5 separate regions of the Homo sapiens genome follow, and regions 1, 2, 4 and 5 are each linked to region 3. The links come from fine-mapping of genetic effects on gene expression. A gene starts in region 3. Each other region holds a variant in brackets. All regions are shown on one strand. Distances are from middle to middle. Region 1 holds the start of CLDN20 (claudin 20). Region 2 has its middle 15 kb from the start of TFB1M. Region 3 holds the start of TIAM2 (TIAM Rac1 associated GEF 2). Region 4 overlaps TIAM2 (TIAM Rac1 associated GEF 2). Region 5 overlaps TIAM2 (TIAM Rac1 associated GEF 2).

The links. PIP is the estimated chance that this variant, and not a neighbour inherited with it, causes the effect.
Region 1: its variant is fine-mapped to the expression of TIAM2 in whole blood (TOPMed, PIP above 0.99).
Region 2: its variant is fine-mapped to the expression of TIAM2 in whole blood (TOPMed, PIP above 0.99).
Region 4: its variant is fine-mapped to the expression of TIAM2 in whole blood (TOPMed, PIP above 0.99).
Region 5: its variant is fine-mapped to the expression of TIAM2 in whole blood (TOPMed, PIP above 0.99).

What each region holds. Positions count from the first base shown.
Region 1 is chr6:155,260,698-155,266,607 of GRCh38, reverse strand. The region is part of intron 5 of TFB1M (transcription factor B1, mitochondrial); the gene reads left to right. CLDN20 (claudin 20) reads right to left here and starts at 2,595. Exons shown (of 2, transcript NM_001001346.3): 1 at 2,320-2,595. The variant C/G (reference allele first, on the strand shown) is at 4,122.
Region 2 is chr6:155,325,941-155,332,168 of GRCh38, reverse strand. No RefSeq gene overlaps it. Among named protein-coding and RNA genes, the nearest start is that of TFB1M, 15 kb to the right of the region's middle. The variant A/G (reference allele first, on the strand shown) is at 3,353.
Region 3 is chr6:154,992,484-154,998,711 of GRCh38, reverse strand. It overlaps TIAM2 (TIAM Rac1 associated GEF 2), which reads right to left and starts at 3,397. Exons shown (of 27, transcript NM_012454.4): 1 at 3,220-3,397. RefSeq lists enhancers at 2,290-2,895, 2,896-3,503 and silencers at 3,140-3,219, 3,310-3,449.
Region 4 is chr6:155,221,160-155,227,387 of GRCh38, reverse strand. The region is part of intron 15 of TIAM2 (TIAM Rac1 associated GEF 2); the gene reads right to left. Among named protein-coding and RNA genes, the nearest start is that of CLDN20, 40 kb to the left of the region's middle. RefSeq lists an enhancer at 2,435-3,634. The variant G/A (reference allele first, on the strand shown) is at 2,610.
Region 5 is chr6:155,239,188-155,245,415 of GRCh38, reverse strand. It overlaps TIAM2 (TIAM Rac1 associated GEF 2), which reads right to left. Exons shown (of 27, transcript NM_012454.4): 16 at 4,707-4,886; 17 at 1,337-1,405; 18 at 633-758. It also overlaps a transcript of TFB1M not described here. Among named protein-coding and RNA genes, the nearest start is that of CLDN20, 22 kb to the left of the region's middle. The variant T/C (reference allele first, on the strand shown) is at 3,002.

The sequences.
Region 1 (5,910 bases), 270 kb before region 3:
TCCAAAGTGCTGGGATTACAGGTGTGAGCCACAGCGCCCAGCCTCATTTGGTCATTCTTAACTGTGAGCGAGACTGGGGAAGTTTGTATCTGGCTTTTCATCCCCCCTGGTGAGCTGTATCCAGCAGGGACTCAGGCTGGCTTTGTGGGTGTCACAGGGCTCTAGCTGCACTTCTAGTGAATTTAATCTCCAGGATTTGAGTTGACTGTGTGATACTTTCCCAAGCAACTAGGATTGTTCCCCAAACCTGTGATTCTCATTTCTGCCCACACGAGGGCTTTGGAAAAGCCCCAAGAGGCTCAGGCCCAACCCAGTGGCTTTTATTTAATTTTCTGGGATGGAGCCCCATCCTTGTATTTTTCAAATGCTGTCCATTTAATTCTAATGAAAAGTTGGGGTTCTGAATTTTAAAAAAAATGTTGTGATGGTTAACACTGAGTGTCAACTTGATTGGATTGAAGGATACAAAGTATTGATCCTGGGTGTATCTGTGAGGGTGTTGTCAAAGGAGATTAACATTTGAGTCAGTGAGGTGGGGAAGGTAGACCCGCCCTCAATCTGGGTGGGCACCATCTAATCAGCTGCCGGCTCAGCTAGAATATAAGTGGGCAGAAAAATGTGAAAAGAGAGACTGGCTTAGCCTCCCAGCCCACATCTTTTCTCACGTGCTGGATGCTTCCTATCCTCAAACATTGGACTCCCAAGTTCTTCAGTTTTGGAACTTGGACTGGCTCTCCTTGCTTCTCAGCCTGCAGATGGCCTATTGTGGGACCTTGTGATCATGTGAGTTAATACTTAATAAACTCTTCTTTATATATATATTTAATATTTACATATTATATATTAAATATATATTATATATTATATATAATATATATTTATATTATATATAAATATATTTAATATTTATATTTAATAAACTCATATATATATATTCCATTAGTTCTGTCCCTCTAGAGAACCCTAATACAAATGTTTTTTCTTCTTTGCTTTCCATTCAATCTTGAAAATAATGACAGTTCAGAGTAAGATAAAATAGTTACCTGTTCCAGCCCTACAAATTTAAAGTGATTTGACCTAATCCTAAAATAATGTTCTTCTTCTGTCCCAGCCTTAGGAAATTAACAGTATCAGCTATGAATATACGAATGTACTGACCAAGCATCTTCAGTGTGATGTCTAGTCCGTTTGATAATTATGGTTTATTATGAATTACTATATTTGTATGCATGTTCTATTTCTCAGTCTTTTAATAATATTACTAGCAGCATTTATCAAGTGCCTTCTGAGTTTGTTTAGATTGAGAGCCTCTCTGAGGTCCTGTCTTCTCTCTGAGGGACGGGAGTTGCTCAGGACCTGCAGCGCTGGGGTCCAGACCCTGGCAGTTGCCAATGTGCTGCCACACCCATGGCCCGGCTGGGCAGCCTCGAAGCTGCCTCAGGCAGCTCCTGCCACATCCACAAACCCAAGCGGGAGCACAGCCCGGGACAGGAAACACAGGGCACGTCCAGATGCTGCTGCTTCACAGACACCAAGGGCGTGGTTTGTGGAAAAGGCCTAGTTTTAGGAAGGTCTTTTCCCTCTGATCATCCAGGAACTCCAGATTAAATGTAACAGAAAACCTTTATACAACAATTGTCAGTTCTTGTTCCATTTGTGCTTTCTTGAGGATTACACGTGCATCTCCCTGAAATTGTTTAATCTCTTGGGACCAAGAGACACTGACTCATCTTGTTGTTGTTATTACTAATAGGTGTAATTTACATACATACATATGTACATTTACATAATTTACACAGTAAAAAAACTCTTCATCCCCCTCACCACATTTCTTAGTCTTATTTCTCTTGTGATCTGAGTTTGCTGTCATTCTCTTGGCCTCAGTTCTTCCTACCACATCTGCTCTGAGAGGAAACACTATGTGACTGTTTAAAATCTGTTCTTTTTTTATGATCCCAAGAAGAAAGAGAAAAAAACAAAGATCTGTAGGAAGAAAAAAGGGTGAGGACAGAACTTCTGCAGAAATAAATATTGTTACAATAACACAAATTGTAAACTTTAGGATAGGTACTGACCGTGTAGTTGATCTTTATTGAACCAGTTGGTTTGAAATACTTAGAATGCTGTCAGCTTTAAGGTTTTACAGTGGAAATTCTTTCCTTAAATTGGCTTTTGGACATGGATCACAGGTAGAGTGAACCAATTCCAGAAAATGTGATCTACATTCACATTTGTCAGTATTTTCTTTTTCTATGACATGCATAATTATCATATCACAGGCATCAGTGACTTGCTGCCTCTACCTGGGATTCTCCTTACCTGGGAAAGTTGTAACCTCGAGGCCCGTGATGTCCTAAAGTGGACTGTCATTAGCTTGGTGGAGGTACTTGAAGAGCAAGCAGACACTGGAGGGTGGGGAAACCAAGCATCCGGAGGCACTCATCTTGCTCCGTTGTTTTACCCGACAGTGAAGTGGCTCTCCCAAGCCCCTGTCCTCCTGCGTTCCATTTTGTGGTGCCTATAGCCTGCAAGATGCCATATGCTTCCTGTTCCCAACCACCCAGGTCTGCCCGTGATCATCCCACTTCGAACTTTGAATCCTTCTTATATGTTGTTCTTTAAAGTCTTACTGATTATTCCCTGTGGTCTTTTTTTTTTTTTTCACTAGCCCTTCTGTTGTCTTAAGTTATGGCTGTGTCTTGGCTATTTACATAGTAACTTCCTCATCATTTTTTCATCTCCACTATCTTGTCCTCTAATGGTCTTGAACACCGTGAGAGTGTTGAATGAAGACCCTTTTGTAGACAGTGGCCAGCATTGTTTCTGTGTCTGTGCATGTGGTCGTGACTTAGCTTTTGGGCATATGATAATCATCAGGAACTGAGTTGTACGTCTCTTCAGTGTCCTCTGTATATCATGTTGATTACAGTTCTCAGTTGTAATATCTAATATCTAAGATTTAAGATTTAATATCTCCTTAGCCCGGGTCCCTTGTGAGTTCCAAGTGCTGCTCTGAGCTGATAACCAGTCACGTCCTAGACACCCTGGCCTGGAAACTAGGACATCTGCCTCGGGCCTGTTATGGCCAAGGCTGCTAACACTGAGAAACAGTCTTAGCTTGTTACAGCGTTGACGTATAGGGTTAGAAAGGCAAATATTTAAATTCATTTTAAATCCTTTCATTTGAAATTTTAGTAGGTCATTTTGGTATACTGATGGACTGAGTTTGGAAAAGGCTGGCGGCATTAAACTAGAATATTTTAAGTACTTCTGATGCCTTTGTACTGATTTCTTTTTTGTAATCAAACCCATTAATAGACTTAAAACTCAAGGAAGAAAAAATAATACTTGTAATTTTAAATAAGCATTCAATTATAAGTAAAAAACATTTTTGTATTCGTTACCATAGTTACCAAGCAGCTTTCCTATAGTTCTAGAAAAAAATGGGCTCCATCATTCAGAGTAATTCTGAAAGGTGCCTTTGGGGGAAAGGGAGAGGAAGGGGTGGTACAGGAGAGGTCCTGGCCGTCCCAGAAGCAGGAGACATAACTGGAAGAGCTTTGTTGACGCTGAGTTTTACAGAATCTCCCACTAAATAGTAACTGCATTTGTGAGGGGAATTCTCTTTTAGCCGTGACATAATATAAGCCAACTTAACAGAGTATTGGAATTGTATTCAAACTTTAGAAGTCGACGCTATAGTTTACATGGGGTACTACTATATTTGTTCAGGGTTTTAAAACTTTATTTAAATCAAGCAAAAGTTAGACACTTCCTGTATTTGCAAATACCAACTATATCTCAAAGGAATGAAATCAGGCAAATAAAGATGAGGCCAAAATTTAAAATCTAAGGAAGCTGAAAGTGGCAGTTTCTGTACTGGAAGAGAGTGCATCTATCTCTGTATTTGTGCTTTTGGTCTTAATAGTTTGTAAGCCTTATGTAGAGTTTTGATAATATTTCATGGTTTTAGGCCTAGGCAGGGATTAGATTTTATCTCAGATTTTGCTAAGAGTATTTCTTCTGGAGACTAGCAGGCTGCTAGTAAGAATTGATAGAATTGGCTCTTTGTCACTGGGAGAACTGGAGTTGAAGGGTTACAGGAGATGAGTCCTGGAGAA[C/G]GGGAGGCAGGGACAAGGGTGCCAGGAAGCTCAGGGGATGAAAGGGAAATGGAGAGTCCAGTGAGAGAAGGCTGGCGAGGTGTAGAGAGTGGCCAGACACATGCCTGACAGTTGGGACCACTTCTCTATACAAATCAGGAGGAGGCGAGGTAGGCAGGATAGTTCAGAGTTTGTGGGAAGGAACCTGACATCTGAAGTCAGTGGAGTGTGTCTTGGGCTGCTGCCTGCACTCTGCCATTCATAGATCAGGTCTTCTTTTTCCTTCCCCAGAACTGCCCTGAGCTGAAACCACCTTTCTTCTCTCCCTATAGCAGTACATCTACCCCACCTACACCCTGCATCCACTCCACAGCCCCTTGTCTTCTTCAGTCCCTCTTTCCCTGATGACCACAGACCTCTCCAAGCTGGGCACTGTTCTATGGTGCGTTTTGTTAAAGTCTAAGGGAAGTCCTGTAGGAAGAGGTAGTTGTTACTAAACTTGAGGAAACATGAAACAACATATAGCACACAATTCAAAAAACTTACTAAAATTTATTAAGAGCATTTGACATCTTAGTTAAGTCACTGTTCATAACTACTGTTCCACCATAGAATCTTCACAAGAACAGCCTGCTGGACTTCACAAGAAGGCTGATGGATGTTGGGGGTGGGCATTTGGGGTGTGGAAAGGCCGCTTGGCACATTCTCAGCATGCGCCAGCCCACACCGCCCCTTACCACCAAAGCCTTCTATTTCCCATTCCATCCAGTAGGAGCAGCTGTAGCTGACCTGAAACCTTCGGGGACAGGCTCATTGATTGTTTAAATAGGGAGGTGCAAGCTCTCAGGGGTCCGGGGCCTTGATGACACAGCTCAGGCACCACAGGCACCTCCCACAAGCGCGTCAGGCTGTGTGAGGCTGAGCACAGCTTATTTTCACTTTCTTGTCCATAAAGTCTCACATCATATTCAGTTGTTTTCCTTCTACCCTAAAAGAAACACAACCAGAAAAGCCAGTCTCCCATTTTCATCTGTTTAAGGAATTATGTAGCCACAAGGATCTTTAGAAGCAAGTCCTCTTAGGAGAAAATGACAACCTCTATGGGATTTCAACAATGGAGTTCCTTTTGAAAAGCAGTGGTGCAGCCCACACCTCCTAAATTGCCGTACTTTCTTCGCCTTTTGTTGAGTCTGTATGAGATCCTCATTAACAAGTTTAACAATTCCTGGAGACTGAGGCTTTTGTCAATTATGACGAGACTTCCCATTTCCTAGACCATGGTCTCCGTTAGCATTTTTGTGTGTGTAGTTACTGTTTTGAATCCATTTCCCTCTGTCTTTAAATGTTTTTCCTTTGGTATTTGAATTTGTCCTTGTGAATCACCATGAGTCCATTTTTGGAACAAATCAGGGTATAAATCTCTTATAAGATATGCCTGAAAAGTTTTATCTTCTGACAATTAAAGAATCTCCACAGCTGGCAGTAGCTTAAACACTATCAAACAGTGACATTTTTTGATGGTTTCCATTTTCAATTTCAGTCCTGCCTATGCCTTTCGGGGCATTTAAAATTGCTACTAGAAAGTTCTGTGGCTTTTCAGACTACACTCATGAATTCAGTCCAGCTGATTAATCAGTGTCTACCGAAAATAAGTGGTGTCTCTATCTGGGAAGTTTAGCACTGAGTGGTCCCTGGGGGCCTGTCTGCCATCTCTCTGTGTCTTGAAGCTGCTGCTGCGGCTTATTTTTTTCCTCATTCAAAAACTAAAATATTCTAATGCCATCTATTATCTGCTGACTGACTTTAATGA
Region 2 (6,228 bases), 330 kb before region 3:
TGAGAGTAGCACAACTAAAAAGACTGTCACATCATAGCCCTTTTTATCATTTTGAAGACTGTTCATATTTTTATCATAACTTGGCTAACTTTAAAGATGACAGAGCTATATATTTATGAAGATAGTTTACTGACAGGTGGCAGTAAAATGTCTTACTTAATAGGATTGATATATATTACATTTTGCTTGGACTTACAAAGGAAGAATATATTTGATTATTAAAAGATCTTGATGATCTAACAACATTCAAAATAACCTACATTTCTAAATAAGATTTTTTTCTCACTGAAGTACTAACTGATTAGTATCTTAAATTTTTTTCAAATCTTTATACTTCATATACTCTGGCACTTGTCTTCTGTACTCAAGTAAGATAGCAGAGTTCTATTTTAAGTATACAGGCATTTTCATTATGATACAAATAACTAGGTAATAGCTAATATAATTTAGCATCAATAATATACAAAGTATGTATTAAATTGACAAATTAGAGATTACTATGTAACAATCTGCTGATTATATTAGAGCACTTGTTTATTTGTTGCTATGGAAATTTTATAATTAACTGCTGTTAAAATTTTTGACTTGTTATCTATAAATTTGATTTTCTAATTGTAATTAAAAATTCAAAATGAATATTACATTGTTTAATCATTTGATGTACAGTATTTATTCAGAATGACTTTATGTTTGTATAATTGTAATTAATGATAGTATATAATATACTAACTTCAAAAGTTCTTTTTTCACTTGAGGAATGAGAGCCTTTCTCTAATTCACACAAAGGTGTCCTGTGGGCTAGCAGCAGCCTTGATCTTTCAGCCAATTTCATGATGGAGAAGATACTGTTATTATCTCCTTTTTACAGAAAGGGAGGCTTAGAAATGTTAAACAATATGCCCACATCACAGAGATAGCAAGTCATGGGGCAAGATTCAAACCCTAGCAGTTTGAGCCAGAGCTCAACGTAGGCAGCGTAACTCTCACTGCTGAATAGCAAGGTTTGAGGAATTACAGGTATCACCTCCCAAAAAGGACCTCCCATACCTTCCGGTCCGGATGGACATTTCTCCCACCGATGTCACTTATTGATTATGCAACAAAAGTGAATGCATTTCTTCCGGAAGATCACAGTGGTGACAATAGAAGCTGATCAGAACTAGCAAGATGGAAGAGTCATTCAGTGTGGATTTCCAAAAATATGTGTATGTTTCAGGAATTGATGAGAAGCACATTTTGATGAAAAACAGACCTAGATTCAAATTATTCCTCTGCCACCTACTCAAGAACCCTTCCTCTCAAACTCCTGGTCCCCCTCCAGCATACAAAACCACATCCTATATATATCTCCAACCATTCACCTGTCCAAGCCAGGAACCTGGGAATCAGCCTTGACACCTTCCTTTCCCTCCCCACCCCACTTCTTCGCACCCATCGCCAAGACCTGTCCTTGACTTTGCAAATATCTCACACACATGTTTCTCACCCTGTGTACCATTGCCACCCTGGCCTCACCATTATTTCACCCCAGAATTACTATAATACCCTCTTAACCACTTTCCCTTCTCACACTCTGACTCCTCTCCCATTTGCTCTCCCCACTGCACCCAGATTGACTATTCATCTCATCAAAGAATGCATTCCCTTAAAACCTGCGAATGCAATGCCTATCATTTCTAAACATCAAGCTCTATCCTAGCCTACACAATCTTACAAGATGTGCCACCTCTCCTTCTCCAGTCATCTCCTCTATACAGCAGACCTGCCTGCTGATTCTCAGATACTCCCAGCTCCCTCCTACACCAGGGCCTTTGCACATGCTTTCTCTTTGGACTACCTAACACCCACGTATCTTTCATTACTCAGCCTCACCATCAGAACCTCCAGGTACGCGCTCCCTGACCTTGGCCTTTCCTTCATATCTCTCCTCACGTCTACTGGCCCAAGGGCAGATCTGGTCATTCTGTGCTAGCTTCTCCTATACTGCATGTTTTGTTTTTTCCTTCAGAGACTTTATTACAGGTTGTAATTATACATTGATATATGGTTATTATTGGTTAATGTCTGTCTTCTGCCGTGGACTATAAGCTACATGTGGGGACTATAAGCTTGTTCAATAGCACACAGAACTATGTAGCTATGAGCAAATTACTTAAACTTTCCCAAAAAAAAAAAAAAACAGTGTGGGGGAACAATACTGCCTCAAAGGTTTTTGGCAGGCTTAATCAGCTATGTAAAGCACTAAACAGAATAGGCTCATTTACTCGATACATGGTAGCTATTCCTGCTGTTATTCCCTACAATATGCTGTGGGCCGTCAGAATTTGTCCTCATTTTAAAATTGTTTCTAGTCTCGTAAAAAGGGAAAACATTCACACAAATAATTAAAACACTATAGGATAAGAGTCTATCACACTAGCCAACAGGAGGCCTGACCTAACAGGCTTTGGCCTTCGCAAATGTGAAGTCGCCGACATTCAGGATACCTTCTATCATCTCTCCTTTAGGGACCATCAGGATCCTGCTGCTTGGATCACAAGCATGGCATTATCAAGAGATTGGCTCAAACACCATCTCCTCAGTGTAGACCTTCGTGATGCTGCCAAGAAGAATTAACACCTTTTTCATCCCATGTCCTCCAGCAGTGTGTGTCTGTGTGTGTCCCTATTAAGAAATTGAAGTTCCTCAAAGGCAAGAATCATGTTTTTCATTTCTATATTCCTAACCAAATCAACTACAATAAATGCCCAAATAAGTTTCATTGAATGAATGAATGAATGAATGAATGAATGAAAAGGAAATTAAAATTACACACACAACAGTGGATATGTAGAAAAGACAAGCACAGCAAGAGCAACTAGGCTGCCCAGGGAGGCAGTATGCAAGTCCAGAACCTAGCTTATGTTCAGAGGGCTTTCAAAAGACAGATCAAAGGAAGTGGAGCCTGGGCAAGAGGCAGCCCTAGTCTGTTTACTCTTCAGTCACTTTGTAACTTACCTGCTGCCCCCACCCCAGGTCTGCTTTGACATGAGATCTTTAAATGTTGAGGTGGGAAGGGGGGAATCGCTTAACTGCTATCTGATTCTTCATCTGTAAAATAAAGCTACTGACACTGACCTTCCTCATAGAGCTATTGTGTGGGATAATTAATTAATAATTGCAGAATCCTTTAAGAGTATAAAGTGCAACATAAATGCTAAGCATAATTTCCACACAGTCTCTGCTGGCTCTTCTCAAGCACATTCCGGCGGCCTCGGGGTCTTTGATCTGCTGTTATCACCTGCAATAGAGCAAACAATGCCTTTGTATCATTAAGCAAATACATAATGAATGGTATTCATTGTTAAAGGTT[A/G]CTTAGCAATATAACTTTTTTTTTGCCTTTTGAATGGGAACATCCACCGGTGAGAGGATTACGTAAGCTAATAGCTAATGTATCAAAGGAAAGGAGAGAAAAGAAACAGCCATGGCAACCAGAGCAATAGGGCCCAGGCTTTGGCCCTCAGAAGAAACCTGTATCCACCTAGCAAAAGGAGGATAAGGACTAACTGGGAGAAAACCAGAGGGGATGGTGAACAGAAAAGTCAACAACAGGAAATGGCAGACTGTGGCCTAGTCATCCTCTGGCTGTCAGATCTCGGCTTATTGCATGAGACATAATCTGCCATCTTCAGGAGTGTGAACCTGGTCCTCTTCGAGTCTCTGGGTTCTTCCCTTCATGCCGAGTGGTGCTTTGGTGGGAAAATTGTGTTTTTCTTTGAATATAACCTTTTCTAGAGATAGAGGTGGGCGGCACTATGATCAGAGAACCTTTATCCTCTGCATTCCTCCCAATGCTCGGCTCTTCCCCGAGAAATGGCCCTCAACCCAATGCAGGGGCAATGGCTAGCCCCAGGAACAATCATCCCAAGATTCTCAAGGTAAGTGAGACAGACCACCTCCTCCCATAAAATGCAAAAAAGCTCACAACTTGTTCATTGGCTCACTTGATTTAATATCAAAAGATTGGAACAGTGTTACAATTCCCTTAAGTGTTCCTTTGAGATTTAAACAAAAGAAATAACAAATGTTTACTGATTTGGTTTGGATTGTTCAAGTTTAGACTTCAGTACTCTAGCACAGTCTTAAGGTATTTGGTAATTCTACAAGTTTAATTTTTAAATGTTAGAGTTAACTTTTATGTCATGTTTTTCAAAAACTATGTGAATTTACAATGTACTCCTCTCCCTATATTCCTTTAAATAATACCCAAAACACAACTCTCATATACCCCTCTATGTTTTACTGCCTTGGCTACAGGGATTTTATGTCTCTTATTTGGCATTGCTGTTTATTGTCACTTCCCCCATAATTCTGGTTTTTGCTGCCCTGTTTTTTTATCCTTTTGAAAGTCTTTCTTCACTATGCTAAGTCAAACTTTGAAACTCTTGGTAAATGCCATAAAATTTTTCTTAACATGGAACAAGATCGCCACCCAGTGGCCATGCTGAGCTTCACTCTATGCATTTTTCCAGATTTTTCCCCTCACACTTTTATTTATCTGGACTGCAGAACAGAGGTGTCCTTAAAGAATAGCCCAGCCCCTTCATTTTTCTGAGGAGAAAACTGAAGGTCAGAAAGGTTAACATTTGGTCAAGTCCACAATACCACAATAAGACCCATGCCTTAGGCCAGGCTTCAGTCCTCATGTTTTCAAGGACTACCTCAGAACTGGAGGTGACCTTCAGGATCAGCCAATCCAAGCCCTCTAACATACAGATGAGGACACTGAGGCACAGAGAAGAAAAATGGCTTCTCAAGATTTATGGAGCTGACTAAATGGGACAAAATTAACACTTAGCCTGATGTTCATTCTCCTACTTAGACCAATCTCATTTTAAATATTTTATTTTCCCCCTTGGATTATCATAATTCCAGCCTTTAATAGGTGACCATAGTAGATGAGCATAAAATGGTCAGCCCTTGCCTTCCTCAAAATGAATAAAGTTATGTAATGGGAACCGTCAGAAAGGTAAAATTCATTCTCATTAATGAACTGTTCATTGTTGGTATATCCAAAAATATTTCACCACTTTTGTTTATACTTAGGAGGTGATAGATTTAATTAAAGGCAATTAGAAATTCTAACTATGCCTTCTTTCAGTTTAAAGAGAATACTTGGCCAGGCTTGGTGGCTCACGCCTGTAATCCCAGTACTTTGGGAGGCCGAGGCAGGCGGATCACGAGGTCAGGAGATCGAGACCATCCTGGATAACATGGTGAAACCCCGTCTCTACTGAAAATACAAAAAATTAGCCGGGCATGGTGGCGGGCACCTGTAGTCCCAGCTACTCAGGAGGCTGAGGCAGGAGAATGGCGTGAACCCGGGAGGCGGAGCTTGCAGTGAGCCGAGGTCGCGCCACTGCACTCCAGCTTGGGCGACAGAGGGAGACTCCGTCTCAAAAAAAAAAAAAAAAAAGAATACTCATCTCTGGTTCAAAATGTCTTGATTCTAGAATTTCAGTACTTGGATTTGAACACTTCCTCTGGCAAGTTAGGGATGACTTCACATTGTCCACTAACTTCAAAATCCTCTTTATGGCATGAGAAAGATCCACAACATTGAAGAGTCCTTATCACTCTAAATAATTCTGAGTTCCTAAACTCAGGTGAATAAGATTCACAGAGGGTAGCGGATGCTGCCTGGCTTTGCCCCACCCCAGATCCGTATGGTCCTCCTGAGTTCATCTGCAGCTGTGATCCAGGCAAACTGACAGCTCCCCACCTCCCCTGCTGTCTTCCATGCCTGGGGGCTTTGGAGCCTCCCCAGCTTCTGGTGGGACAATGCTGAGTTGGGCTGCACACGGTTTTTCAAAAGATCCCCTGGGATTGAGCCCCAGTTGCCCTGGAGCCCTAACATGAAACTACTCCCTAACCCCTGGAATTGGCCTTTCTCCTTTTCCCATGGCATTTTCCCGACTTCCTCACTTGTGCTTCCTGGGATTACCTCTCCAGGAGGGGCAATTAAACAAACAACCTGCATCCACACCCTTGCCTCAGGGCCTGATTTTCAGGGAATACAAACAACTGACTCTGCATTGTAGAGAAGCCCTGTTTTGCCTTGATGACACATCTAGTCTCTAATAATGGTGTCCCAAGAGGTTGTTCAGTCTGGCCTTTCTCCCTGTATACAAGCAGATTAACTAGGAAGCATGAGAAGTTGAAATGTCAGGGCCTATCACTCGAACAAGC
Region 3 (6,228 bases):
CTTAAAGTTATTCCAATGTTATGAATTCTAGAGATTCCAAGATTCCATATAACTAGCAAACACTTTTGACATCTACAAGTATATAATTTTATATCACAATCTTATAAATGCTTGCATGATAATTCACATATTGATTGTAGCTTGAAAAATGCCACCAGATCACCCCACAAATTGTTAATTTTTAACTACATACAAAATTTGGAGCATTTTTACAACTCTTGCAGCCAATTCAGCTTGCAAATGGCCCCTTCCCAATGAAAACTGCATTTTTCATGCATAAAACTGTGATATTAAATACTGATCTCATTGGAGATCCTAAATAAATCAGACTCAAACCCTTCTTACTTTCTTAGTTTAATTCTGTGACATCTCACTTTAGGATGGCTTAAATTCTTATATACAAAACGGCACTCCAATGCAATTTATTAGCACATGTTTATGCGAGCAAAGCTCTTTAGGGCCTTACTTGCAAGTTTCTTGCCCCCTTATCTCTCTTAGCAAATCACGATTAGACACGTAAACCTGAGTGGCTAGAAAAGTCATCAGCTGACAAAGCACCACATGTTGACACAAATCCCTGACGCCCACCCATGAATTCACACTCGCAGATTCTTCCCTGTAATCAAGGAGAAGACATCTGTCTAAGCATCATTTGAACAGCCCAGACATAAGATAAAGCAAACTGAAGCAGATTTCTGTATACTGACTTATACAAAAAAAATCTGCCCCCAAACTCTTACTTCTTTCTAGAGTTCGTGAGAAGTAATCTTTTCTGGCCGGACACGGTGGCTCATGCCTACAATCCCAGCACTTTGGGAGGCTGAGGAGGGTGGATCACTTGAGCTCAGGTGTTTGAGACCAGCCTGGGCAACATGGCGAAACCCCCTCTCTACAAAATGTTTTTAATTAGCCAGGTGTGGTGGCACGCGTCTGTAGTCCAGCTACTTGGAAGGCAGAGAAGGAAGATCAATTGAGCTGGGGAGGCTGAGGCTGCGGTGAGCTGAGATCATATCACTGCACTCCAGCCTGGTCAACAAAGGGAGATCCTGTCTCAAAAAAAAAAAAAAAAAAAAAAAAAAAAATCCATTCTTTCTTCACTCGTTCACGGAACCTAGGAACCTTAACTGAGCTCCTATTACATCAGTTGAAGTGATGGATGCTAAGTACAGTAGTGGGGATAGGCTTAGGGTCACTACTAACCCATACTGTACTTTTGGTTAAATTGCCAAATGTATCCTCTCCAATGGAGAGGAGCGCACTAGAGGCTTGGCAAGTGGAGTGTGAATCGGATTTCAGCCTCCAATTGCCTGTTGGACAAGATGACCTTGTGTAGTGAACAGCCTGAACAACTGTGCAAGGTGGCAGTGCCAGAGGTATATACAAAAATGTGTTCTAGTAGAAGCACTGACTACTGGAGGAGGAGGAGCTTAACTTCGCCTACGGATAAGGAAGAAAAGCTTCCTAGAGAAGGTATTTGACTGACACATTAAGAATGCGTGGGTAATTGACAGATGGGCAAGAGGAGTAAGAACAGTGTAAGCAGAATTTCATTCATTCCAAACAATGGTCTGGAAATAACAACTTCTGAGTAGCTTGGTGTGTCTAGAGCAGGCAGTGTGCAAGCGGGGGAGAGCCAGGAGGCCTGGGGAAAGTCAGTAGATGGAACTGGAAAGGCAGGCAGGTGCCACATTATGAAGCATCTTAGTATGGTATGTGAAGGTGTTGAAAGCTGATTCTGAGGTCATTAGGGGCGTGTTTTGCCACAGTAAATAATAAACTCTTCTTCAGTTATACCTTGCCATGTTCTTTTACATTTACCCAACACAAAAACCTCTGACACCCTAAAGCAACAAGTTTTATTTTCCTATAAAGTGAGCAGGTAAAATCCGGTGGAACAAAAGTTTGCTTACAAAACTGCACCAATCATGATACTATATTTTTAAAACATAACAATCTTAAGCACATCAGGAAATACTTCTAAGAGTGTATACACACAAGTTCTACTGGTTAAGCCCAAATTATAAAACCATGGACACTTTTTTATCCAGAGCCTAGGACTGAAACATTTATAGCATATGATCCGCACCTGTACGAAACTTGGTAAGATTTTAGAGACACTCTGGCTTAAATCTATTGGAAAGAGAACTGGAGATAGCCGGTGTTGTCTGTTAAAATAAGGTGGTCAGCATCATTTGGGGAGCAAAAGGTAGAATGTGTGAATAACCATGAGAAGAGAATCCCAGGCCCTTCATCGCATAGTAAATAAAGGTCTCACCATTACCCAAGGAGGCTGAGGAGTGTCACCAAGTGGCCTCTTGCCTGAATTCTGCAGAGAAAAGCAGGAAAACCTCCCCCTGAATGAAATTATCTTTGGAATCAAGCAGCCTTCTCCCTCTTTAAATAAAGTTAACCTATTTGTCTATTTTAAAAAAACGGCATGCAAGCTCATCAATATTAAATTTCGCCGCTCCTTAAAGATAGAAATACCTCGTGCAATGTTACTCCCAGACCTTTCCAGCGGCTGTCAGCAACGAATGGCTGGAAGAATGGACTCTTTTCTTTCTGAACTGTTTTTGGTAAATAGGATCCATTAGGGGCACAACGTGTCGGCTTTCACAGAAACTTGGCACCTCAGCCCCCCCAGGAGCCGCGCCCGTCCGGGATGGCTCCCGCGCTCGGAAAGGCCGGAGGGGCTGAGCAGGGACCGCACGGTCTACACTCGCTGAGCCGACCGCCTGGGATCCTGCTTCGCCGCAGCGCCTTTCTGAGGCTCCGAGGTCGCCGGGCGGGCGTGGGCGCAGCGGGCGCTCCCCTCCGGGCACCCACGGCTCGGCTTTGGGCGAGAACCTCGGTATCAGGAGGCCGGGGCGCCGCCTCCTCCCATCCGGGATGGGACCGGGGCTGAAAGTGGGTCCTGGCGTGTCGCGCAGCGCGAGGGGACCAGGGGACCTAGTTTCAGAGCCTTCTGGAAAGTGCTTCGTCCCCCGTGCCAGGCTGTGCCCGGACGCTGCCGCCCTCCGGGGAGAGGGTGCCAGGCCGCGCCCCGCAGCCGCGACCTTCCGCGGGACTCCCAGGAAAGCGGGGGCAGAGAGGGGCGGCCAACAAAGGGGAAGGGAGGGGACCGCCGGCCGCGCGCCGCCCCGCCCGCAGGGGACCTGGAGCCGCCGCCAACCAGCGCGGGTCGTCGCCCTCCTGCGCCCTCACCCGGGCGCCCCTTACCTCGGGTCGCGCGCCGGGCTCGGTGGGGCCGGTCGCGCGCCGCCCTCCGCTACCCTCGGCGCGTGGCCCTCGCGGGAACGCCGGGAGGAGTTGGAGAAGTTCTGGGGGTCACTTTGTTCTCCACTTGGACGCGCGCTGTGCGCCTGCGGCGGCCGCGGCCACAGTTACGGTTACCGCTGCCCCAGCCCCGCGCGCAGCGCCTGCCAGGCCCGAGCCGCGACCGCACCTCCCGCCCCGCCCCGCCCCGGACACGCCCCAGCCCCGCCCAGCGTCAGGCCCAGGACCCCCGCGCCAGCTCCCGGCTGGTCCCGGACCATGTCCCTCGCGCTTTCTTTGGAACAACACAAATAAAACAATTCAAGAAACATCGAGCACGCGCTCACTGTGAGCTGGGGGCTCTGCCCGCTACCGGGGATGCGATGCGCCAGTGCGACCCCGTCCCTTCCCCAAGGAATTTAAAGACGGCTCTTCCCGGGTCCCACCGAGGAAAGGCACGCAAAACTGAGGTCAGCGGCCGCAGAGACTTTCCATCTCCTTCCCCTTCTGAGAGGAGATGGCTTCGCAGCGGAGATGGCAATCGAGTCGGCACTCCAAGACCCAGTCGAATTGGGACTTTCCAGGTGGAGAAGCTGCGATTTTTATTATTATTTTTTCAGACTGAGTTTCGCTCTTGTTGCCCAGGCTGGAGTGCAATGGCGTGATCTCGGCTCACCGCAACCTCCGCCTCCTGGGTTGAAGCGATTCTCCTGCCTCAGCCTCCCGAGTAGCTGGGACTACAGGCACGCGCCACCACGCCCGGCTAATTTTGTATTTTTAGTAGAGATGGGGGTTTCATCATGTTAGTCAGGCTGGTCTCGAACTCCCGACCTCAGGTGATCCACCCGCCTCGGCCTCCCAAAGTGCTGGGCTTACAGGCGTGAGCCACCGCACTGGGCCAAAGCTGCGATTTTTATTAGAAAAGCCTGAGTGGCCCAGTGGGCCCAGATGCTGGGAAGGGCGAGGGAGCTAAGGAGACCCAGGAATGAAAGCTGCCTGGAATCACTCTCCTCGCCTTGAAAAAGGCTGCACCCTGGAGAGGAGAGGGAAGGGAAGGTAGATGCAGGCCATGTGTTAGGGTGGGTCCTACGAGAAGCAGCGCCCACTCAGGACTAGATGCGGAGGGTTTTCTTGGGGGAAATGGCCGTGGAACTAAATGAGGAGGGAGCCGTGAGAGCTGGAGAGGGCCGGACCTTCTGCAAATCAGAGCCCAAGTGAAGGAGGGAGGGAAGCACCCATCCCGGCCTCCCTGCAGTCTAAGAAAAGCTCAGCAAGATCATCCGTGAGCCCTTCAGCCAAAATTACGCATCATGGGGATCCCGATTCTCCCCGGAACCTGCCTGCCTTCGTGTCCATGCCGCCACCAGTCCTTGGCTGGGAGCGGCCAGGTGGGAAGGGTGGCGTTGGGCACAATCCCAGTGCTGGAGTTCAGAGCACAGCAGCCAGGGCCCTGGTCAGTTAGGTGCAGTGCGTGAATACGACCCAGTCTCCGTAACGGGAGATCCGTGGAGAACTGTGAGTCAAAAAGACAAATGAAATCAGCTTTCCCACAACACACCCAGTATCAAAAGGAAGCCTCCAGGCTTTGCGGGGATCGGACAGACCTGCTCTCCACCCTCAACCACCACAGGCTCTGTACACACCGAACTAGTAGTGACTGGCCCCTCCCACTCTGTAGGCCCTCCCCTGGTCTTGTCTGCATCTTTGCGCACTTGGCTCTGCCTAGGAAAATATCTTCCCACTCCACTCACTCTTCCATGCTCAATTCAAGCATCACCTCCAAAGACCTTTTCTTCCTTGACATTTATTTACTGTTTTGTGGGTGGGGTGGGGGGGGGCGGTGCTTGCTTTGTTTTGAGATGGAGTCTGTCTCTGTCGCCCAGGCTGGAGTGCAGCGGCACGATCTCAGCTCGCTCAACCTCCACCTCCCGGGTTCAAGTGATCCTGCCTCAGCCTCCCAAGTAGCTGGGACTACAGGCATGCACCGCCACACCCAGATAATTTCTGTACTGTTAGTAGACACGGAGTTTCACCATGTTGGCCAGGCTGGTCTCGAACCCCTGACCTCTAGTGATCTGCCCACAGCCTCCCAAAGTGTTGGGATTAGGGTGTGAGCCATGGCGCCCGGCCAACACTTATTTACTTCTTACTTCTGACTCACACCTACCACACTGAGACGGGGGGTGGGGGGGTGCTGGTATGTGTTTATTTTTCTTGCTTCTTTTATTGCATTTTTCGCACTATTTTAAAATATTTTTCTGATTATAAAAGTAACATGTTTGTTGTACAAACTTGAAAAAATATATAGAACCCAGATGGCTCTAATTCCTCTCCTCTTGTGAGACACCATCCCTTGACAGCCAAGTAACCAGAGTCTGAGCTCCCATACCACCCACGTGTGTACATATGGGTCCAACCAAGAGAGAGGCTACACAATGATTTCAACAGTGAAAGTTTAATACAAAGAATTATTAACTATAACGGGACTTGGAGTAGTGGGGGATTGACTAGGTTAGTAAGAAAGACAAAAGAAAATGGGAAGAGCAGGCCAGGCGCAGTGGCTCATGCCTGTAATCCCAGCATTTTGGGAGGCCGAGGCGGGCAGATCACCTGAGGTCGGGAGTTAGAGACCAGCCTGACCAACATGGAGAAACCCTGTCTCTACCAAAAATACAAAATTAGCCGGGGATAGTGGCATATGCCTGTAATCCCAGCTACTTGGGAGGCTGAGGCAGGAGATTCGCTTGAACCCGGGAGGTGGAGGTTGCGGTGAGCCAAGGTCACGCCATTGCATTCCAATAGGGAAACTCCGTCGCAAAAAAAAAAAAAAAAAAGAAAAGAAAAGAAAATAGGAACAGCAGATGGAAGGACTGAAGGAGCAGTCATTGCCCCAGGGCTGAGAGAGTGCACCCAAGGGAAGCTTCTCCTTCCCCTGGGGTTGAGACCCAGACCCTGTTGGGGAGGGCACAGCTA
Region 4 (6,228 bases), 230 kb before region 3:
ATAGGGTTGTGGGGAAAACGGGTTTAAATGAAGTGATGTATTTAAAACACATTGTATTCGCCATGGGCTAAGTCTCCGCAGACTGACTCAGCACCCCTGCAGTTTACAAAGCCATTCCGCATGCCTAGTCTTTATTTCACCTCACAGCCATGAAACAGTTGTGGAAATGGAATCCCACTTTCTTAACAAATAAGGATTCAAGGGAGTGAATGATTTTTCCAAAGCCCACTGTGAGTGCATGGAAAGCTCCAGCAATTCTGGTCCAAGTATCTTTTCACTTTGTGCAACAGCAAATTAAGAGACAAACATCTACTTTCCTTTCCAACTTAGTAGAGCAGGAGGGAAAATCCTTCTAGTTAACTCTCCTGTTTCTTATGTATCCCACTCTCCGAGCACATACTGCAAATGTGCTGTTTGGGATGGCCTTCGCCACGGGACAGTCAGAGCCAACTCAAGGTGACAGCAACTCAGCAACAGAGACAGGGGCGCAAAACAAACAGCTTGACTTGCCCTGGATTATTCTTCTCCAGAAGAAACCAAGCCCCAGTTTCACTGATGGGGACAGACACACAGGGGCACGGGCTCTGACTTGGGGGAATGAAAGGGACTATGTCACCACCTGAATTTGTTGCAGGCAAATTATGAGTTCTTAAAGATTTTTTTAAGCATTTAAATTTCACCATCTGCAATCTTTTTTTCTTCCCTGCCCCCCGCCCCCACCCGAGATGCAGTTTCACTCTTGTTGCTCAGGCTGGAGTGCAGTGGCACGATCTCTGCTCACTGCAACCTCCGCCTCCTGGGTTCAAGTGATTCTCCTGCCTCAGGCTCCTGAGTAGCTGGGATTACAGGCGTGCACCACCATACCCAGCTAATTTTTTTTAGTAGAGATGGGGTTTCACCATGTTGGTCAGGCTGGTCTCAAACTCCTGACCTCAAGTGATCCACCTGCCTCGGCCTCCCAAAGTACTGGGATTACAGGCGTGAGCCACCACACCCAACCTACCATCAGCAATCTTTTGTTTCCACTTAAAAGCGGAGCCCACAAAGATGCTCAGCCAGCCAAGGGGGCTACTGAGGCTGAGCAGCCTTGCATCCCATTCCCCACTGGTACATTAGTATCTTATGACACCTTCAGCCGTCACACTTACTTCTACTGATGGCTGCTTTTTCAGGTTTCATGGATCAAAGATGCTTTTCATCGCTTATGAAGAATGGGATGGGGGCAGGGAGACAGGGTCCAGGTGCTATGATTTCGTCTGAAATCACATCCTCTTCATGCTTAGAAAGCCCTACACTTTCTCTTCTAATATTGGCTTAAAACAATGCTTGGAATCTGGTTTCAAAAAAATTGTAGCTTCTGGGAGGAAAGTTATAAGTATATAAAACATCAATTACATGTTAATATCCTGGCAACCTTAATTAAGCAGGGGTACTGCCAAGGGCTACTTGCCTTAAAGTGAGCACAGATACCCTGTGTGCCCCTTTAATTATGGTTTTTGTTCAGTGTTTTTTGCTGGATTTGAGTAATGCAACAGTCACATCTGGCACCCTCATCAACAGGTTCTCAAAATAATGATAATCTTATATGGAACAATACCTATCTTTATTTATATAAGTATTTATCTGAGACTTTACCACTCTATAATCTACACTGACTTCTAACAGAAATGGAATAAGATTTAAACTAAGACAACTATCATTTTCAATAAATAACTTGACAGTTTTGATCAAACTTCTTAAAAATAGAAATCAATAAATACATGGGAACCAAAGCCAGGTATCCCTGGTGGTGAGAAGAGCTGGGGATCTAGAGAAGGCAGCAGAACCAGGACACTCAGGCAAGAAAAAGATGGAAGAGACAGAGTGAGGGTGACAGAATGTGAACAGAGACTTTCTTTAAAGCCCCACACTTAGAAGTTACCTGTAAGCCTCACGTTGTATTACTGCTTGATGGTCCACCTTTCCCCATCTTGGTAACTCATCTGTATAAGCCCCAAATTCAAGACCTCGGTGCTCAAATGAGAGGAAGGCAGAGCACCAACCTGTCCTGATGGGTGTGTCACCCGGGCCCTCAGACTGCCCTTTATCTATGCCTGAATGAACCAAGAAGGGAATAAACTCTTAAAAATCCCAGCTGAGTGCATTGGCTCATGCCTGTAATCCCAGCACTTTGGGAGGCCGAGGTGGGTGGATCATCTGAAGTCAGGAGTTCGAGACAAGCCTGGACAACATGTCAAAACCCCATCTCTACCAAAAATACAAAAATTAGCTGTGTGCAGTTGTGCATGCCTGTAATCCCAGCTACATGCGAGGCTGAGGTGGGAGAACTGCTTGAACCTGGAAGGCAAAGGTTGCAGTCAGCCAAGATCGCACCATTTCACTCCAGCTTGGGTGACAGAGCGAGACCCATCTCAAACAAACAAACAAACAAATAAATAGAAAATCCCAAAACCAGCTGAGAGTGGCATGCAAGGTAGGAAGATGGCAGGACTCCTCCAGGCATGCAGCATTTGTGGTTTCTGAGCAGTTGGTGATGAAATCCCCGCTGTGCAGATGCCAGGCCAGAACCTTCTAAGCAACTGCACATCTCAGAGCCTCCTCCTCTGCCA[G/A]CTGTTTTCTGAAAACACCAGAGGACTCAGGTGGCAGCAAAGAATGAGAGAGCGCAAAGGCAGGTGAATAGCAGAGGCGGCAGCATGCGCTGGAGGCTGAACAAACACAGTCGGGGTGTGGAAGGGGCAAGAACCAACGAAAGGATGAAAGAGGGAAAGAGAATTGGGGGTGCCTTTAAAACAAACCTCCATTCTCCTCCTTCCTTCCATACTAATGACACATCCATGTTTTTCTTGCCCTTTTCTTCATGTTATTATCAAGACAGCAGGAGACGGATTTACAAAACGAATGATCCCATCTTAACCTTCAGCAGTTAGAAGCTAGTGTTTGAGATGGTGAAAATACCATCATGTGTACCTGGATGAAGCACTTCCAGGCAGAGTTTTTCCATGACCCCTCCTCCCTCAACTCCAGACACATCTACTCATGACACACACATCTACTCTTAGCTGAGTCTATAGAGGAAATTGCAAAATGACTCAGAACAATTTCTCACAACTTACTTTTGCAAAAGCAAAAGCAGCCACCACTGTGGAGCCGGAACTTTATCACAAGGTGAGAATCTGCTATGAGTCATGAAAGGCACAGAAAATGCCTTGAAACTCAAACACATCTTCTTTCACTCAGTACAAGGTTTTCATTGGACTACAATCTCTACGCAAGAATATTGACAGAAGGCAGCCAGGTGACGATTTCAGAACTTTGAACAATGGCAAGCATCTGAGCAGGCCTCGGTGAAGGGGATTTAATGAGTGAATGAATAATGCGACACTACACCCACCCCCCTGGGTAAATATTAAAGATCGGATGAGATTCCAGGCACCCACACAGTGGCAAGCCAAAATTAGATAGTAATTGTGCCTATTACTTCTTTAAAAGAAAAAGGGCGAACGACAACAAGGGCTTAGCTAATTTGCTGACATGGAAAGGGGAAGGGTGAAATTCACTGGCAACGCCCTTGCCGGGGAACACAGGAGCCACAGCCACCTGAGCGTCCCTTACGCTGAGCATAAAAAACACCCCTCCTAGTCCATCAGACAGCTATTTATTTTACTAAAGAGATCCATAAAAGTTTGGTTTGGGATCAAAATGTTAAAATTCTTACTCCAAAAAAAAACCCATTTTGTTCACTAATGATAGAAAATAAAACTTTCAAAATGCCAAAACATCCCAGCACGTAATGCTGCGATTGGTGTTTAACAACCTGGGTTTGCATCCATTGAAGTGCAGAGTAAAAAAAAAAAAAAAAAGAAAAAAAAATCTGGGGATGTCTAACCACCATCATCAATATAATCTATTCTGGTCTCAACCTAATAATTTATTTGCCATCTAGGGGTTGTTATTTATTTAACGTTCCTCAACATCTCTTAGCACATTAAAAAAATAAAGCATTAATAGCTAATCTCACCCAAGCAATTAGACTAAGATAAAAACAAAGTTCAAAATATCACTTGACTATATAAACACAGTGCTGTTCATATTGCAGGTACTTGATAACTGATTCTGCAATATCAATAATATTAAGACACAGGCTAGGCTATTCAGATGTTTACTCAAAGTAAGGATCACAAACTGACGGTTCATAAATTCCTAACAGGGAAAGCTGTGAATAAACATCGTAAGACTGGGGAGCTCCCTGGAATTGTCTGCAATTTCTAACGTATGTGCATAAGCAATCTTCTGGGGACCCATAGCTTTCCTCAGATTCTCAAATGGTCTGCTTGAAATAAGTTCCTAAATAACGTAAGTGCATAAAAGAGCAGAGAGCATCTGGAAATACGGTATCTAACCATCCTGACCTTCGCATACCATTACCTGAGAAGCCTCCAAAAATCTTACAGGTTTTAGCTTCAATGAAATGCATGAAGGACAATAAACGACCGAAGCAAATTCTAATAGGGTTCTGCTAAGATTCTTCTTCTAAGCAGCTCTCCATATTCATGGGGATAAAAAGGGATATCTAGCAGAAAGCTGCTTTGGATCAGGCATTCAGGCAGAAAGACAGACAGGGAGAGACATCAGGGCAGGACAGCTGGTCAGACGGACCCTTGAGTTTCACAGATAGGGAAGTTTGACAACTTACCCAAGGATGAAGAAACGGCTCCTCAGTGTAAGACTTAGGGCAAAAAACCCATGGTTTTTTTTGTGTTTTTTTTTTTTGTTTGTTTTTTGTTTTTGAAACAGAGTCTTGCTCTGTCATCCAGGTTGGAGTACAGTGGTGCAGTCTTGGCTCACTGCAACCTCTGCCTCCTGGGCTTAAGCAGTTCTCATGCCTCAGCCTCCCGAGTAGCTGGGATTACAGGAACGAGCCACAATGCCTATCTAATTTTTGTATTTTTAGTAGAGATAGGGTCACACCATGTTGGCCAGGCTGGTCTTGAGCTCCTGGCCTCAAGTGATCCACCAGCCTCAACCTCCCAAAGTGCTGGGACTACAGGCGTGAGCCACGCCCACCCAACCCATGTGTTCTTACTCCGAGTGTACCCCATGTCGAGGTGGCTTCCCCAAAGAATAGGCAAGAACAGGCCGGGTGTGGTGGCTCACGCCTGTAATCCCAACACTTTGGGAGGCTGAAGAGTGTGGATCACCTGAGGTCAGGAGTTTGAGACCAGCCTGGCTAACATAGTGAAACCCCGTCTCTAGTAAAAATACAAAAATTAGCTGGGCATGGTGGCGTGCACCTGTGGTCCCAGGTACTGAGGAGGCTGAGGCATAAGAATTGCTTGAACCCGGGAGGCAGAGGCTACAGTGAACCAAGATCGCGCCACTGCACTCCAGCCTGGGCAACAAAGTGAGACTCCCTCTCAAAAAAACAAAAATAAATAAATAAATAAGAAGAAGAATAGGCAAGAACCTGCAAATGGTATTTACACTGAGGCTAGTTTGGCCTGAGAAATCAAACTTCCTGCTTTCTTCTCCCACAGAAAGCAAAATTATATCAAGGTCTCCATAGCTCCATCTCTAATTCAGAAGCCCAGAAAGGAAATAAAGATCTGGAAATAGAGGGCTGAGGGGCATGGAGAGGGAAGATGGAAGAAAGAGGACAGACATGGGACACTTGCCGTTCAACCCCATCTTCACTGTCATCCAGGTGGACAAAATTAAAGGGGAGACCTCAAGCAGCTCTGGCAAGAGGTCCCTTACGACCACCTAAGTTGCAGGGAGCTGGCTGATGACTCCTTGAACTTGGCTTTCTGTTTGCCTTGAAAAGGTCAAACATATCCCACTTCAAGTGTCATCTCAGACAGGATGAGAGCAAAACCATGGCACCCGCTGTTTCAATGGAGAGAAAAAGGAGAAGCCTGTATCAGAAATAAACGTGGCAAATAAAGCATTAGGTGAAGATCAGCATCTCTGCTCAGTCAAATCTTTGTGTGGCCTCAGCTCTGAGTAGTCTCCAAGTCACTTTCCTGTGCATCACTGTCCCAGCAGGATGAGGAACGGGAGTGTCATTATCTCTTCAGCAAGTTAATTTCAGAGCCAGCATTCCACCTGACAGGCCCTGATCCTCCAGCCCACCCCAGCGCAGTGATTCACACTGCAGCTCTCACAGCGCTGCTCTCTAAAACTTCTCTTTTTTACTTCTTTATTTTGTGATTCTGAAGATGACTCTGAATA
Region 5 (6,228 bases), 250 kb before region 3:
CAGAGCCTACTGACAGTGTGCAATCCAAGGACAAGAAACAAAGAAAGTTCTACAAAAATACAGCTGACAAGGTGGGATATAAACAATCTGAGAGAGGTTCACTAATAAAGCCGACTCTGCATTGCTTGGGGAGAGTGATGCTGTCTGTATGGTTCCAGGTCCCCTTGGAGGGGCTTCCTGCCACACTGCGGCTTACACGGATGCTATGGAGCACTGGTGCTTCATAGAAGAGAGGGCTTGAGCCCAGCAATTAGAAACCTATTCTCTTAATCCCAGATCCACATGACCACGGGGAAGAAGGATTGGGCACAGGGTAGGAGCTCTGGTTTCAGAAGCAACCACCTTGGATATCCTTCACAGCAGCTGAGAAAAGAGCACGTACGTGGTCAACAACCAGGCGGGAGGTGCTGCTGGACTTCTGACTACCAAAAGCACCTGCGCCAGGAAAAAAAAATATATACAGCCTTCCTTTACCACCTGACAGAGGAAAACGGTGCAAGGAAATAGTCACAGGACAATAAATAGTCAATAGTCACAGGACAAGAAATTCTTTCTCATGAGAGAATTCTCATGAGAGAAATACGTACCATAGCCACGTATTTTTACTTTAAGCCTAAATCTGAGATACTTACTCTAAACTGTGAGGGGGTTTCTAGGGTGTTAAAGTCAGATGATGCTGAAATCCCATCCTCCAGGGTCTCCAGAAACACCTTCTGAAACTCAAGCATCTCTGGCAAACTTCCAAAAAGTGACTCCATCTATGTGAAGATCAGGATTTGAAATGAGGGGATTAGCCATGAAGTTCAGGACACCACGCTAACTCTTAGGCCCACAAATAAATCACAAGGAAATTCTTCACGGAAAAGCAGACAGAAAGTAAATCCTTTAAGAAGACAGCACATTCATTATGGGATATGGCTTATACATAGAAAGTTTCACAGCTCCATCCCCCATAATTCTCTATTACTACAGTAAATTTTTAAGTGGATGTAAAATTCTCAGAATTCAAATTAAGAAAAATGTAAGTCAGTAGAACTAATTATGTGGTTTCACATTACAAAGGTATGTATTGAAAAGGAATTTCTGATCACACTCTCTTCTACCTCAAAAAGACCATAACCGTCCCTCTGCCTTTGTAAACACTCTGCCACTGGGTCATGCAGCCGAGGCCACAGCAGTGGTTTAGGAGGAGGCTATGCCTGGGACTCTCAGAAGACCGTTAAGTCTTGGGATGTTCTTTTGGGATCAACAGAGATACTCTCATAGGAGTTCTGCTAAAAGGCAAACAGAGACTAACCTGTGGATCACTGGACAGAAGGAAGGTGATTTTATTTACCTCATCTTGGGTAAGAAAGGTCTCATTCTGAAGTGGCTCCAAGTATAATTCAAAGAGGCAGCTCAAATCCTGAAAGAAAATAGAAGAAAGTGTCTTCAACGCTTTAGTCTCCAAAATACCCATGAGATTTGGGTAGCAGCAACCTGGCAGCAGCTCCCAAGGCTCCCATCAGGATAATGAAGTTTATGCCTTGTTGAAATTCTTTTTTTTTTTTTTTTTTTTTTTTTTTTTTTGAGACGGAGTCTTGCTCTGTCACCCAGGCTGGAGTGCAGTGGCATGATCTCAGCTCACTGCAACCTCTGCCTCCTGGGTTCAAGAGATTCCCCTGCCTCAGCCTCCCACATAGCTGGGACTACAGGTGTGCTCCACCACACTCAGCTAATTTTTGTATTTTTAGTAGGGGCAGGGTTTCACCATGTTGGTCAGGCTGGTCTCGAACTCCTGACCTCAGGTGATCCTCCTGCCTTGGCCTCCCAAAGTGCTAGCATTACAGGCGTGAGCCACCACACCCAGCCTTTGTTGAAATTCCTGACCCCAAAAGTAGTGATTATTGCTCACCTAATTCAAAGAGTTTAATATCACAATACAGGCAACAGCTGGATTCCACACCTTTACAGCTCGATCATTCCCTCTGCTTAGGTAAGTGTCTTGGTGACAGAAACACCCTTTCTTCAGGCCACTGCAGCAGGGGCACTCACTTCCCTGCAGAGGAAGGGCGTCTGGGTGGCACTGGTGTCAGGTGCACCCCAGCTCCTGGCCTCTTCTGCCTCAGGGAGCACAGTGAGAGGTCCAGCATGGAGCTGGGAGGGTCAAGTTCTGGGGAGCCCTTCAACTTTGGGGTTGACTGATTCACAGAATCTCAAACTCACATATTCAAAGGCAATAAAAAACTCCCACAGAGCTGCAGCTCTAATGGCTAAACTCTAAGCCATATTTGGCTGTCTTGCAAACGAGGTTCCAGCAGGACAGTATAGTGGGAGTAGACTGCAGTTACAAAACCCATGAGCGAAAGATTTTGTTTAATAATTTGAAGCCAAAGCCAGGCATGGTGTCTCATGCCTGTAATCCCAGCACTTTGGGAGGCAGAGGCGGGTGGATCACCTGAGGTCAGGAGTTCAAGACCAGCCAAGCCAACATGGTGAAACCCTGTTTCTACTAAAAAAAAGAAAAAAAAAAAATAGCTGGGTGTGGTGGCGGGTGCCTGTAGTCCCAGCTACTCAGGAAGCTGAGGCAGGAGAATCTCTTGAACTCAGGAGGTGGAGGTTGCAGTGAGCCAAGATCATGCCACTGCACTCCAGCCTGGGTGACAGAGCGAGACTCCATCTCCAAAATAATAATAATAATAATTTGAAGGCAAGACCAGGATATAGTTCAGTGATAGAAAAGATTTCTCTTTTATTCTGAAGAATTTTGAGTCCTAAAATACTAGAAGCAGTTGACTGCAAAGTCAGCTATAATAACTCCCTCACTTCCCAAGAGGGGAACCTAAGACCCAGAGCTTTATAAAGCCCAAAGCATCCCCAGAACTTTCTGGCCTTAGTTCAGAGAGCAAAAGGCAAGGCCTGTGACACGGATGCTTTCACCATAAAAACCTCCCTGGCCTTCCCTCACCATATTCCACGCCAGACCGCTCAGAGAAGGGAGATGATGGAAGTTACTGAATCA[T/C]ATCTCAGGGAACACATAGATGTCAAAAATTTCAAGGAGCATGCAGGGGATCCAGGTTAAAAAACAACAAGATTCTGTGTTAAACGTCAGCAACAAAAAAGAAATGAAGAAACGGTGGTGTGTGTGTGAATCACAACAGGTGCCAAGTGTGGGTTATTTTGTCCGAGGGTGTTGGGGCCTGGCAGTCATGCCTCACAGGCTGGTGCTGCCTGGGAGGACTTCCTGGACAGCAAAATCAGGTCCGCGCAGAGCTGCGGGGGGCAAAGGGCTGCAACCCAGGGGGGCCCTAAGAAAACAAAGTGCAGGTTTCTTGCAGAGAGAAGGGAGAGTCGGTCCTTGTCTACTTCACCCATGACACCATCTGAGTACTCTGCCAGCCTGTCACTGAAATGACCCTCCCAGTACAGCGTGGCCTAACAGGAAATTCTAACAACACTATTACCAAAAAGGGACATCGATTCTCCTCTCAACTCTGCCCTTAACTCTTGGGGCAAGAGCTCCATGACTATTCTCAAGATGTCAGAAGGGCTCTGAAGCTTCCAAAATATCTACAGCGCCACACAGCGACTTGGAAAAAGGTGACTGTGGAGATGGGATTATTCAGAACTTGAGTCTGAACAGCCTGGCTGTTCACTTCATCTCCACACCCTGGATGCAGGACAAGACATAATGGAAAATGAAACTAAACTGTCATCTCTCCTAACTTTCCTTTCTCCCCTCTGAGGCCAAAAGAAGGGGCTTTGGGAAGCTACCTGTGAATAGGGCCTTAGGTGAAGTCCTGGTAAAACAGCGACATCAACAAAAGGGGGAAGCTCAGATCTGTCTTGCAGAGCAAGGTAATAGCCGCACGTGTGTGCCAAGCCTTAATTCATGGACCCAGCACGTCAGAGTTGGAAGACATTTAGAGAAGGGGGACCGAGTGTCTCAGACCCCAAATAAGGGAGTTGAAGGGGGCCATCCACCATACAGCCAGAGGGAGGCAAAGCCGGGCCTGGACCCTCAGCCCACCGCACCGTGCCGCGCTGCTTCAGTAACTGACAAATGAAGCGAGCTTCAAATGGTACCAAAGCTCCAGGAAACAAAGCAAAAGAACTCTGCTCCCCAGGCTCCAGTATTCTTCATAAAATCTTTCTCAAACCACTGACTGGGGGCTTATGAGATGGATAAATGAATTCTTCGGGTACTCAAGATACTCGGCAACTGCCCCTTCATAATGGTGCAAGGATATTCCCACGTGCTGACCACTCCCCAGTGTGTGCGTCCCAGTTCTACACGATGACAACCACCAGGCAGGGCTGGCCCGGGCCACCGCCAAGACTGTGGGGCCTGGATCAGCCGTCACGTATGTACAGATTGTTCCCAAGTTCCTCATCACCTAAAGTGATCTCTCTCCCCTTATACTAAACCAGTACAGACTCCCTTCCCACAGATTGCAAATGACAAACCAGAACATCTGTTTCCATAGTGAAAGCTACCTTGGTAACAAAATAAGCCAAGGATCTAATTTTTTTCTGAGTCTCCTCAGCTCTTCCACCCTCTCACTCTTCCCCTCCCTTCCTTGAGCAATTCACTGATTCAAGGAGCAGGTGTCCCCCCCTGGGGAGTGGCAGGTGTCCTGGGCAGAGGTGATCTGGGGACCTCTGCCAGCATACCACTTGCCATCATCAAAGAGGCACGAATGCATAAATGCCAGCTCTTCCCTTACCTTCACGTAGGACTTCTCTGTGTCCACAAGCTCCTGGATGACTTTGCGGAGGCGGTCTGCATCAGACAGGTGGCGGGCCAGAGACCTCGGAGGAGGATCCTGATTCTCCCGCGGTCCTTCCATGCCGTTGGCCTGACTGTCGTTAAAACTCCTGCACAGTGCAGTGATCTGCTCAGCACTCTGAGAGAGGACAAGAGGTGGAAAATAATGCACGGGCCTCTCCCTGATAGTATCCGCTGCCCCCAAGGGCACCAAGTGTCTCCGTCTGTGCTCAGCAGGGATCTCAGAGGGGCCTCTGTGTAGGGCAAAGGGTTTCATTCACCTCAAACCCCTCTGGCTATCATTTCGGATCTGAGTAAGGAAGATGTGCGCCCACACTCATGTTCAGTGTTTACACACGAGGCTCTCCATTGTCACATCAGCTGTTAGATGTATCTTTGGACCTGAAATTACAGAGTCATTGCCTAGGGCTAACCCTCTGCAGTCAAGGTGAGGTAGCTCTGAAATCAAGAAGTTATGGCTTTCTAGGGAGCAACAAGAGCAGATGGCCTCAACAGGCCCACCCAGTCCCCTCAATGGTTGGCCTAATCCAGTTTTCCATCTCCCACACAGAACAGCCCGGAGAGACTCAAGAGAGGCACAGCCCAAGAGCAATTACAGGACGACCTGGCCACAGTGGGCCAGGAGTTCTGCCCTCCAGTCTAACCGCTCAGCTCCACAGTCTTGTGGCAAGTAGAATTATGAGTGAGAAACTCTTGAGCTGGTGCACATGCTAGTAATGGAGTAGAAGCAGATGAAGATGGTAACACCCTCACCCTAAAGGGGTGCAGAGCCCTGCAGAGCGCACAGGCAGGGAGCAGAGGACACATAAGGCCTGGCGAGGATGAGAGGCCAGGGATCAACCAGCCCCAGAGGAAACCTCTGCGAGGAGGGAGCTAAGCTGGTCTTAGCAGGGAGCCAGGGCCAGGCCTAGGGAATGTGGGCTCAGAGGAAATACTCGCTCCCAGTCATGGGAAAGGAATCACATAGATGAAGAGACAAGAAGGAACATGACCATCTGGGGGGACCACTGGCCTTTGGCACAAGCTCCTATTCAGACAGAAGCACCATGTGCTTCCGCCTTCTCAAAGACAGCCTATCTGTATCCACCAGACTTTGGCTGGAAAGCCTCACAGGTGAAACGCTTCCACAGTTGCTGGAGCAGGGTCAGATTACAAAGTGTCCTTTTACTTCTCATTCTTTCCATTCCACCCTCACATCTCCACCCCACTTCACCACCTCCCCATCTGGAAGCCCAGTGAGGGCAGGGTGGCTTCTTTCTTTCACATCTCCGCCAGCAGCCAGCTCACTGGCCAGCACAGGAGGTACTCGGCCCACCTCTGCTGCACTGAAATTCTTACTGAACAACGCAGCTGAGTCCCAACACAAATGACTGGCATCCATTAACAGCCAGCAACTTTCTGACTGTCAACTAAAAAACTCTCCTTTTTTCAGCTTAAATGCCTTCATGCCTGACCTCTAT